3 linked regions of the Homo sapiens genome follow. The protein of the gene in region 1 purifies or fractionates together with the protein of each later gene. This does not show direct contact. Each region holds a gene or a part of one and is shown on either strand. Other genes may lie near its edges. The genes, in order: RABL2B, CEP43 and PPP2R3C.

Region 1 (3,469 bases):
CTTTATTTGAAACTCTGCTCATTTTTCAGGCCCTGCTTCAATGCCACCACCTCCGTGCAGCCTCCTCTGATGTTTGTCATTAGCTTAGCTCTTTCGTGTGTGCTCCTGCACCACTGATCCCTTCCACAACATGGACTGTCTGTGATGCACGTGTGCAGGATGCTGGGAGTGCCCAGGTGGAAAGACACACGTGCTGCCCCCAGGAACTGACTGACTGGTAGGCACAGTACAGATACCAGTGGTGAGGACAGTGAGGATTCTTCCCTTCTGACCCTTTGCAGATGGTAAAGGAAGGAACTCATCACCTAATTCCCCCGACTGCCCCTTGAGAACAAAATCCCTTGAAAAATTCCAAAAGCTTTAACTCTGATAACTGTTAAGGCACTAAACAAGAGGATGATGGGGCAAGGAAAATGGGGGCAGTGTAGTGCAGAAGTCTGACCCTCAAGAGCAGAGGAGCTTGGTCCTAGCCAGTTTGGTTTCAGGCCTACAGTGGCATTTGGTATTTTGAGCTCACCTCTCTTTTTCTCTTGGAGTGACTGCTTCCTGCATCTGCTGCATCTCCGTGGGCTCCCCTCAGACCCTCTTCTGAAGGCCTGGGGTGTCTCTCCTGCCACCATGCCTGTGTCTGCAGGTGCCTGCCACCAGCCCCAGTCTGCTGCACGGGCCCTGGCGAGTAGAAAGCACTTGCCTTCTGACCACACGGGGAGCTGAGGGTCAGAGACGGAACCAGGGCTCGACCCTCCACCTTGAAACCTTGAGATGGGGATGCTCCTCATTCTAGCCAGCTCCTCCTCAGCTCTCAAAACAAGGAACAGATGCTCAGGAAACCAGACCTGGACAAAAGGCATCTGAGCCTGGTGTGAGGCAGATTCCAGAAGTTTAGTTACAGACATCCTTTATAAGGAGTCTTCATCGGGAATTCAAGACAACCTGGTGATTCATTGAAATTTGCCTGTGAAAGAGAATCTACATAGACTTCCTGCCACCTCTTGAGATGTGACAGTTGCTGACCCTCCCGCCACCACACAGGGCGAGCCCCTAGCCCTGAGCTTGAACCGTGTTGCTTGCACAAATAGCTGGGTGATTTAGAAGTGAGGTCAGCTGTGCCAGCGGTTACAGGGTGGTGGTTGTCTGTAACTTTAATCCACTGACTGTTGTACTAGGGCAGTTTGGGCTAGACACTTTGGAGGAGCTCCTGTGAAGGGCATGAAGGCTCACTGTAGCAGCAGCTCAGTTGTCTTTCAGAGTTCTGCCCTTAAGAGCTGGTTTGCAGTGCTCATCCTTCTTGCTGATATTTTAAAATAGGTAGAAACAGGCTGGGCGCGGTGACTCATGCCTTTAATCCCAGTACTTTGGGAGGCCTAGGCGGGCAGATCACCTGAGGTCAGGAGTTCGAGACCAGCCTGACCAACATGTTGAAACCCCGTCTCTACTAGAAATACAAAAATTAGCCAGGCGTGGTGGTGCGCACCTGTAATCCAGCTACTCAGGAGGCTGAGACAGGAGAATCATTTGAAGACAGGAGAATCGTTTGAACCCAGGAGGTGGAGGTTGCAGTGGCAGTGAGCCAAGATACCGCCACTGCACTCTAGCCTGGGCAACAGAGCAAGACTCCATCTCAAAATAAATACATAAATAAATAAAAATAAAATAGGTAAAAACAAATTATAAAGTAATACAATTATGAACTGCAAATAATAAAACATAAAAATTACTTTAAAAAAATTTAAAGAGGCCGGGCACAGTGGCTTATGCCTGTAATCCCAGAAATTTGGGAGGCCGAGGCAGGAGGATCACTTGAGACCGGGAGTCCAAGACCAGCCTCGTTAATATAATGAGAGCTTATCTCTACAAAAAATAAACAAAATTAGCCAGGCATGGTGGCATGTGCCTGTAGTTCCAGCTACTCAGGAGGCTGAGGTAGGATCACCGGAGCCCAGGGGGTGGAGGAGCAGTAAGCCAAGATTCTGCCACTGCACTCCAGCCTGGCTGACAGAGTAAGACCCTATCTCAAAAAACAAAAAGCAGAAAGAACAAAGAAGTAAACAGAAGCTTAAAAGTAAATCAGCCAGGTGCAGTAGCTCATGCCTGTAATCCCAGTACTTTGGGAGGCCTAGGCAGGCAGATCACTGCAGGTCAAGAGTTTGAGACCAGCCTGGCCAACATGATGAAACCCTGTCTCTACTAAAACTACAAAAATTAGCCAGGCATGGTGGTGCGCACCTGTAATCCCAGCTACTCCGGAGGCTGAGACAAGAGAATCACTTGAACCTAGGAAGTGGAGGTTGCAGTGGCAGTGAGCCAAGATAGCGCCACTGCACTCCAGCCTGGGCAACAGAGCAAGACTCCATATATGGAGATCCCTTGAGATCAAGAGTTCGAGACCAGCCTGGCCAACATGGCAAAACCCTGTCTCTACTAAAAATAAAAAAATTAGCCAGGCATGGTGGCGCACACCTGTAGTCCCAGCTACTGAGGAGGCCGAGACAAGAGAATCACTTGAACACAGAAGGCAAAGGTTGCAGTGAGCTGAGATTATGCCACCACACTCCAGCCTGGGTAACAGAGTGAGACTCCGTCTAAAAAAAAAAAAAAAATCAGGGGCAGTTGTGATGGCTAACACTTGTAACCCCAGCACCTTTAGAGGCCCAGGTGGGAGGATCCCTTGAGGCCAAGAGTTTGAGATGAGCCTGGGTAACATAGGGAGAGCCTGCCTCTACAAAAAAAAAAAAATAAAAAAATAAAAATTAATGCGTGCGTGCTACTTGGGAGGCTGAGGTAGGAGGATTCCTTGAGCCCAGGAGTTTTGAGGTTACAGTGAGCTGTGATTGAGCCACTGCATTCTAGCCTGGGTGACAGTGAAACCCTGTCTCTAAAAAGTAAATAAATAAATAAAAGTAAATAGTAACTAAAGTAAAACTCTAGAAACATTTACGGTTACTACAGAGGAACTTTAAAACAGTTTAAGCAATAAATACAAGAGGACTAAAAAACACAAAAGTTTTTACAATTTCTAACAGACTGCATCAATTGGCAAATTGATTCCATTTATGATTGTTAAAATAGGTGAATAAGATTAGATGACAAGATAACAAAAAAGGAATACGTTATTTATTTGTTTATTTCAGACAGAGTTTTGCTCTTGTTGCCCAGGCTGGAGTGCAATGGCATGATCTGGGCTCGCTGCAACCTCTGTCTCCCTAGTTCAAGCAATTCTCCTGCCTCAGCCTCCCAAGTAGCTGAGATTACAGGCATGCGCCACCAGGCCCAGCTAATTTTTTGCATTTTTAGTAGAGACGGAATTTCACCATGTTGGCCAGGCTGGTCTCAAACTCCTGACCTCAGGTGATTGACCCACCTCAACCTCCCAAAGTGCTGGGATTACAGGTGTGAGCCACTGCACTGGGCCAAGAATAAGATTTTTAAAAACATTTTCGCATCTGGAGGCTCCAGGGGGCTTCCCTGA
Region 2 (3,654 bases), on another chromosome or scaffold:
TCCAGTTTTTGAGTATTACAAATAAGGTTTCTGTGAACAGTCACATACAAGTCTTTGCTTGGATCTGTGATTTCTCTTGAGAAAATATGTAGAGGTGAAGTGACTAGGTCACATGCTAGGAATATTTGTGACTTTTAAGAAACACTACCAAATTGCTGTCCAAACTCGTTATGCCATTTTGCATTCCCATCAGCAGTGTATGAGGCTGCCACTGTAGCAGCAATTAATGTGGTCTTAAGGAAGCTTACCATGTGCTACCTACTGTAGCCTCTTCTCAGCAACAATCACAGGCTTGATGGTCTAGAAGTATTTTTTCCATACTTATTCAAATAAATGTATAATTACAAAAATAAGTTGGCCTATGGGCCGCATAAGATCATCTCACATTTCATGGATAAACTGGGAATTACAAGTGTATAATTAAATTCCTGTTCATAGTAAGTATGCTATAAATGGTAGATACCTGAGATGACAAAACTTTTATCAAACTTCATGTATTTGAAATAATAAACAGTTGTTGACATTTAATTGTATTTCACACAGGTATTTGAAAATATCTAGCTTCAAAAGCAGTTTATAAAACATTTAAAAATTAAAAATACAAATCTTCATATATGGTTTTGTTATATTAACTTTGAGAAATTACTAAATAGCACAAAGTAAGTCCTGTAGTAATTAACAGTTGTAGAATGGATTTTGTAAAACCATAATTTTATCAATGAAAACGTTAAACTTTATATTTTGTAGTTGTTTTTAGGGTAAACACATGACACTTAAATTTTTTTTTTTTTAACAGAACAAAACTCCTTTAGTTAATGAGAGCCTGAAAAAGTTTTTAAATACCAAAGACGGTAAGATGTTCAGTTTGTTCTTGTTTATCTATCTCTGAATTTTTGAATCTTGATACCATTTGGGAGAAATCAGGAATTTCAGGGCTTTTTTTTTGTCTTCAATTGTTATAGGTCCTCATTTTAAAATAATATTTTATTGTACAACAATCGTGTTGCTATTACATATTTTTGGATTTGGGATGTTGTTGCTTAAAGCCAGTTTTACTACAAAAAGCCAATATTAACCATTAAAAAGCGAAACACTGAAATCTATGAGATGATTGTCTTACAGTTAGTTACAGACTGATGATCCCAGTGAAAAAATCAGGAGATTGAGATTTTCATTACTTAATCATATTATTCAAAGAGGAAATTTGTAACTTAAAAAATTTAGAAACCTTTCTTCCATTAATTTAGTGTATCTATTTCATAATGTTAATTTAAAAAATTCAGTTTTTGAAGATTTGCTTACTTACCTTTTTCTTGATCTTTATAGGTCGTTTAGTGGCTAGTCTTGTTGCAGAATTTCTTCAGTTTTTTAACCTTGACTTTACTTTGGCTGTTTTTCAACCTGAAACTAGCACAGTAAGAATAATGATTTTTACATCTATCTTTTGAAACCTTTGATACAAATGAGTTAATATTAAGCTGAAAGTTAATAGAATTTGACAACTGATAGTTTTTTACATTTAGATTATTTTTGGTAGTTGATTATCTGTTTTTCTTAAAAGCCATATGAGCTTTCAGATAGCTGGCACCAGTGTTGCTGCTTTGTGTTACTTGAAAGCTTGCTAATAAAAGTGTTACTATAGAGTTAATTTTGATACGATGTTAGAGTGCACCTGTTAATGGAAACGTTGAAGGTAGAGGCTCTGTAAAAGAAATAGGCATAATTTTTTAAAATAGACATTTCATTCATTAGTAAGACAGTCTCTTTGAGTTTAAAGATGTCTTTAAACTCTGAAAATATCTTCTTTACTCCTTGAGAATAACTTCTGCTATTTTTTTGTGCACTTGTATTTTAACTTCTTTTCTAGCTGCAAGGTCTCGAAGGTCGAGAGAATTTAGCCCGAGATTTAGGTATAATTGAAGCAGAAGGTACTGTGGGTGGACCCTTATTATTAGAAGTGATCAGGCGCTGTCAACAGAAAGAAAAAGGGCCAACCACTGGGGAAGTAAGTAGAATTCTGTGTTATCTTTTTCTATTTTAATTATTGGCTGCTTAGTTTAGCCATGCAGATTAGTGCATATATAGTAAATTAAGGTTTTCATACTAGAAGATATTCCTTAAAAACAAAATGAGATGCATTCAGATTGTATCAATGCAAATTTTAATGAAAATTAGGAATGTGCTGACTGTGATTCTGTGGCATATCTGTTCTGGTTTTTGATCCTCAAGAGTGTTGGGTCATGAGCTAAACTGTCTGGAACAAATCCCAACTCCTCGTTGCCTCACTTGATCCTCCATTCATTCCATACTGTGTATGAAGTGGGCTCTACCAGGCCCTACCTTGGTGTTCTGAGGCTTCTCTGCATAAGCCAACAGAAGCACTCAACTTGCTATTATTTTTATTAAAACATCTTATTTAAATATAAAAGGGCTGATTTATAGGATAGTTAATAAATTTTTGGACTTAAAGGCCTCTTTAGGCTTAAAACTAAGCTGTTGATTTTGCTTTACGCTGTTTAGAAACAGTTCAAACTTACACTTTTTTGATCAGTAGTACTTTTCATACTCTTAACCTTTTTTTAGAAATTGTGCTAATGAGATTAATGATATAATTTTATTTTCATACATTAATTTTACATGAAGATACTCTGTTTTATAGATACAGGTAACATCTGTAACTGTTCCAGATATTTGATTAAATGTGAGCTTTTAGTCAGAAATTTATAGGTAAGAATGTGGAGGGCTGTATAGGTTTCCAGTTATTTTCTTTGGTGAGTCTCAGAGGATGTTTTCTATTAGAATTTTTGAAAATTGATAAAGCTTGCCTGAGTACTAATTATGTGTAAGGCATGGTAAATAGACTTTGTGGGTACTATAAGATAAAATATAAGAAACTTCTGTGTCTCTGAATAGCGCAGAGCTATTTAAGATAAAATGTGCTCAAATAAGGAAATTAACATTTAAATAACAGTTTAAGATTATGGAGGAATTGTCATTTAACACATTATTTCCAACCATATTATGAATAGTTTAGAGGAGGAAGCGATTGTCACATGCCAAAATTTTATTGAAGTCAATTTTAAAGTGAGAGTAGGATGTCAGTTGTGGGGCGAGGATTGGGAAGGGCTTTCCGAGAAGTTGGAACGGTGCCAGCCAAGCGTGGGAGCAGGAGAGCATAGCCAGATCCCAGGCTGGCTGGGAGTGAGGCGGCTCACCCAGAGCGCAGGTTGTCACTTCAGCTTGTGCATATAATTTCATTCCTTCATTTATCAATATCCAGCAAGCTTTTATTGTGCGCTTATTTGATAGATACTGTGCTGGGTACTGGGCAATCAAAAACAAACTAAAGAACCCAGTCTCCTGGGGCCAGCAGTCTGTAGGTCATGATGACCTCTCTTTATTGGCTTTCCCCTCTCGGCTTCTGTGGCCCTGAAGAACTCTCTTCTCTTTCTAACTGCCCTTTCATTTTCTTTTCTGTTTAGTAGTTGTGCTTTGGCTCACCTCATTGCAGTGGTGTTTATGCATATTTTTCTGTCTAGATTGATCTTTCTTCCTTAACATACCACTAGCATGGACTCTGGAACCAGGTTACTTGGGTGAAACCCCAGCTCTGCTACATTCTAGCTCTGTGAGCCTGCAGTCACTCAGCCTCCG
Region 3 (3,654 bases), on another chromosome or scaffold:
TTCTCCTGCCTCAGCCACTCTAGTAGCTGGGATTACAGGCATCTGCTACCATGCTCAGCTAATGTTTTTGTATTTTTAATAGAGACAGGGTTTCACCATGTTGATCAGGCTGGTCTCGAAGTCCTGACATCAAGTGATCCACTCGCCTTCACCTCCCAAAGTGCTGGGATTACAGGCGTGAGCTACCGTGTCTGGCTTCTCTTATATTTTCTTAAAAAAAAAAAAGCGGGGGGGTGGAATTCTTGGCCCTTTAAAAAATAGTGACACATTAATATCACTCATGAATAATCAAACGTTTTTCAGTGATTTTTAAATGTTAAAATGCTACATTCTTTTTATTTTCCCCTTTAAAAGGCTTTTTTTTTTGAGACAGTCCGCTCTTGTCACCCAGGCTGGAGTGCAATGGCACAATCTAGGCTCACTGCAACCTCCACCTCCTGGGTTCAAGCGATTCTCTTGTCTCAGCCTCCTGAGTAGCTGGGATTACAGGTGGCCACCACCATGCCTGGCTAATTTTTGTATTTTTAGTAGAGACGGGGTTTCTCCATGTTGGTCAGGCTGGTCTTGAACTCCTGACCTCAAGATCTGCCCACCTCGGCCTCCCAAAATGCTGGGATTATAGGCATGAGCCACCGCGCCCAGCCAAAAGGCCTTTTTTTTTTAAAGTTTGAAGAAAAAGAATCTAAAAAGGAATTTGTATAGTCAATATACATTAAACATTTGTTTAGTAACACATGTCATTTGTTAAAAAAAATAAAAATAAAAAACCAAACCCCAAAACGGAAACATCCTGTGTCTCAACAAAAACTATATGGAATCAACACCACCGAGGTCTATGGAAAAAAAAAGAAAAACCTGTTCCCTTTGCTCTGCTGGAAGCTGGAAGGTGCTAGGCCCTTGTGTAGTCGTGCATAGAATTCTAGCTGCTTTCCTCTATTGAGCGCAGAGTATACTATGTCTCTATGTGAATATGGACAGTTAGCATTTACCAACATCTCCTTGTCTACTGTGTCTTTTTTTTTTTGAGATGGAGTCTCGCTCTTTCGCCCAGGTTGGAGTGCAGTGGCGTGATCTCGGCTCACTGCAAGCTCCGCCTCCTGGGTTCATGCCATTCTCCTGCCTCAGCCTCCCAAGTAGCTGGAACTACAGGTGCCTGCCACCACGCCCGGCTAATTTTTTTTTGTATTTTTAGTAGAGATGGGGTTTCACCGTGTTAGCCAGAATGGTCTCGATCTCCTGACCTCGTGATCCGCCCGCCTCGGCCTCCCAAAGTGCTGGGATTACAGGCGTGAGCCACCACGCCCGGCATCCTTGTCTACTGTCTCTTATTTAAAAAAAGAAAATAAATTTTACAAAATGGGGTTATAGGTCAGCAAAGGGTAGGTTTGAAACGTTTTGATAGTTTAAAGTGAGCATTTTGACAACGTTGCTTTTCCTTTGGCATGTTTAATTGTGATTTTTAAGGGGCATCCTTGCAGTTTAAAATGACACCTTTAAAATAAATTCTCTCTCTCTTTTTTTTTGAGACAGGGTCTCCCTCTGTTGCCCAGGCTGGAGTGCAGTGGTGCAATCTCGGCTCACTGCAACCTCTGCCTCCCAGATTCAAGCGATTCTCCCACCTCAGCCCCTTGAATAGCTGGGATTACAGGTATGCACCACCACAGCCCAGCAAATTTTTCTATTTTTAGTAGAGATGGAATTTCACCATATTGGTCAGGCTGGTCTCAAACTCCTGACCTCAGGTGACCCGCCCACGTCAGCCTCCCAAAGTGCTGGGAGTACAGGCCTTGGGAATACAGGCGTGAGCCACTGCACCCAGCCAATACATTTTTTTTTTTTTTTTTTTTTGAGACGGAGTTTCACTCTTGTTGCCCAGGCTGGAGTGCAATGGCGCTATCTCGGTTCACAGCAACCTCTGCCTCCTGGGTTCAAGTGATTCTCCTGCCTCAGCCTTCCAAGTAGCTGGGATTACAGGTATGTGCCACCAAGCCTGGCTAATTTTGTATTTTTAGTAGAGATAGGGTTTCTCCATGTTGGTCAGGCTGGTCTCAAACTCCCGACCTCAGGTGATCCGCCTGCCTCATCCTTCCAAAGTGCTGGGATTACAGGTGTGAGCTACCACACCCAGCATAAATTCTCTCTTAATGATGACTTGAAGGCTGCTACTCCATGGGAGAATCAGTAGAACCTGTAGGATCTTATTTGGAATTGACATTCTCTATTGTAATTTTGTTTATTTTAAATTTGTTTTTTGTTTCACTGGAAAGATGATGTTCAATTTTAAAAGTTGAAAGTGTACAAGTTGCTTTGTTACAGTAAAACTAAATATGTACACACAAACACACACAGACAGAAATAAAACAAAGTATTATGAGAACAGCCTGTAATCCCAACACCCAGTGATAACTACAGTTTACATTTTAGTGTCTATAAGAGTTAATATAATATCTATAAGGTTAACACTTACAGATTCCCGAAGGTACCCCTGCCCAGCGACATCATATAAACTGAGTCCTATTCTTGTTTGATGAAGCCAAACTGACAATAAACAAGAAAATGAAAGTAATTCTTAAGATCTATCCTTCAGATATGAAAAAGGAGATAAAGAGCCAGATTTGAGACAAGCTAATCTAGTAACTCTAAAAACATTTCTTCTCACCACAAAATTGCTTGAAACAAAAAACCATAGAATGGAAGAGTTCAACAATTCTACCATGACTAAAGCTATAATAAAATTGACACCTTGAAGATACTGTTCTTTACCAATTAAACTTGGTGTTCCACCAAACAGGGACAGCTAGTATAATATTATGCCTTCAGTGAAGCTGCTTTTATTTCTGAGGTTAATTACAGCAACCAATTATTAAAGATTGTATACAATAGGCTTTCACAGATTATTATGGCACTTGTAGGAATCATAAGTCCAAGCTGTTTAATTGATGCTCCTTGAAACTGATATTACAGCTTTGGGTTTGAAACTATCAGTCAACTCAACTTGTAATATACTGGTAAAATAAAATTATCAGTAAATTAAAATTATTTCAAATTACCATACATTAAAACTCTTGGTTCAGCTCTTAATATTTCTAGTCTACTATTATCTTTAAGACACATGAGGGTTTAAAAAATTTTTGTTTTTTTATGCTAACCCAAGTTTATGTAACACATCTTGGTCAAAAGATAAGAAATTCTACTATTCAAACTTAGAGTGATTTCACATAGAAGAAATACTTATAAAAGCACAGACCAAAAACCTACTTGATTCCCAGATAAGGAGTTCAAGCACAGTAAAAATGAATCACCTTTTCTCATGACATAATTAAAGAACTGCATGATGGAAATTCTTCCATATGAATCTGTATGAAGGAGTTTAGCAAAGACTTTTGCTGTGAAAAATTGCCTAAGAAAAGAAAATAAAGATTTAAATGATCTGCCAACATAAAAGAAAATGACTTCTACATAAATTAGCAAACAATGGCATAAATTCATACAATTAAAAATGAAAGAACAATAGAGACTCCTTATAATTCAAAAACTTAAAATATTAAGTCAAACTTTTTTTTTTTTTTAAAAGAAATGGAGATTTGGCCAGGCGCAGTGGCTCTTGCCTGTAATCCCAGCACTTTGGGAGGCTGAGGCAGGCACATCATGAGT

The links.
Region 2: the proteins of RABL2B (region 1) and CEP43 purify together in Homo sapiens (affinity purification with mass spectrometry; one large-scale study listed by BioGRID and IntAct). This does not show direct contact.
Region 3: the proteins of RABL2B (region 1) and PPP2R3C purify together in Homo sapiens (affinity purification with mass spectrometry; one large-scale study listed by BioGRID and IntAct). This does not show direct contact.

The regions. Positions count from the first base shown.
Region 1 is NC_000022.11:50,770,177-50,773,645, reverse strand, and holds part of RABL2B (rab-like protein 2B), read left to right. Parts: intron 1-3,469. UniProt on the Homo sapiens protein: Small GTPase required for ciliation. Activated in a guanine nucleotide exchange factor (GEF)-independent manner via its intrinsic GDP for GTP nucleotide exchange ability.
Region 2 is NC_000006.12:167,002,397-167,006,050, forward strand, and holds part of CEP43 (centrosomal protein 43), read left to right. Parts: intron 1-796; coding exon 797-851; intron 852-1,326; coding exon 1,327-1,415; intron 1,416-1,867; coding exon 1,868-2,005; intron 2,006-3,654. UniProt on the Homo sapiens protein: Required for anchoring microtubules to the centrosomes. Required for ciliation.
Region 3 is NC_000014.9:35,104,837-35,108,490, forward strand, and holds part of PPP2R3C (serine/threonine-protein phosphatase 2A regulatory subunit B'' subunit gamma), read right to left. Parts: intron 3,401-3,654; coding exon 3,303-3,400; intron 2,539-3,302; coding exon 2,468-2,538; intron 1-2,467. UniProt on the Homo sapiens protein: May regulate MCM3AP phosphorylation through phosphatase recruitment. May act as a negative regulator of ABCB1 expression and function through the dephosphorylation of ABCB1 by TFPI2/PPP2R3C complex.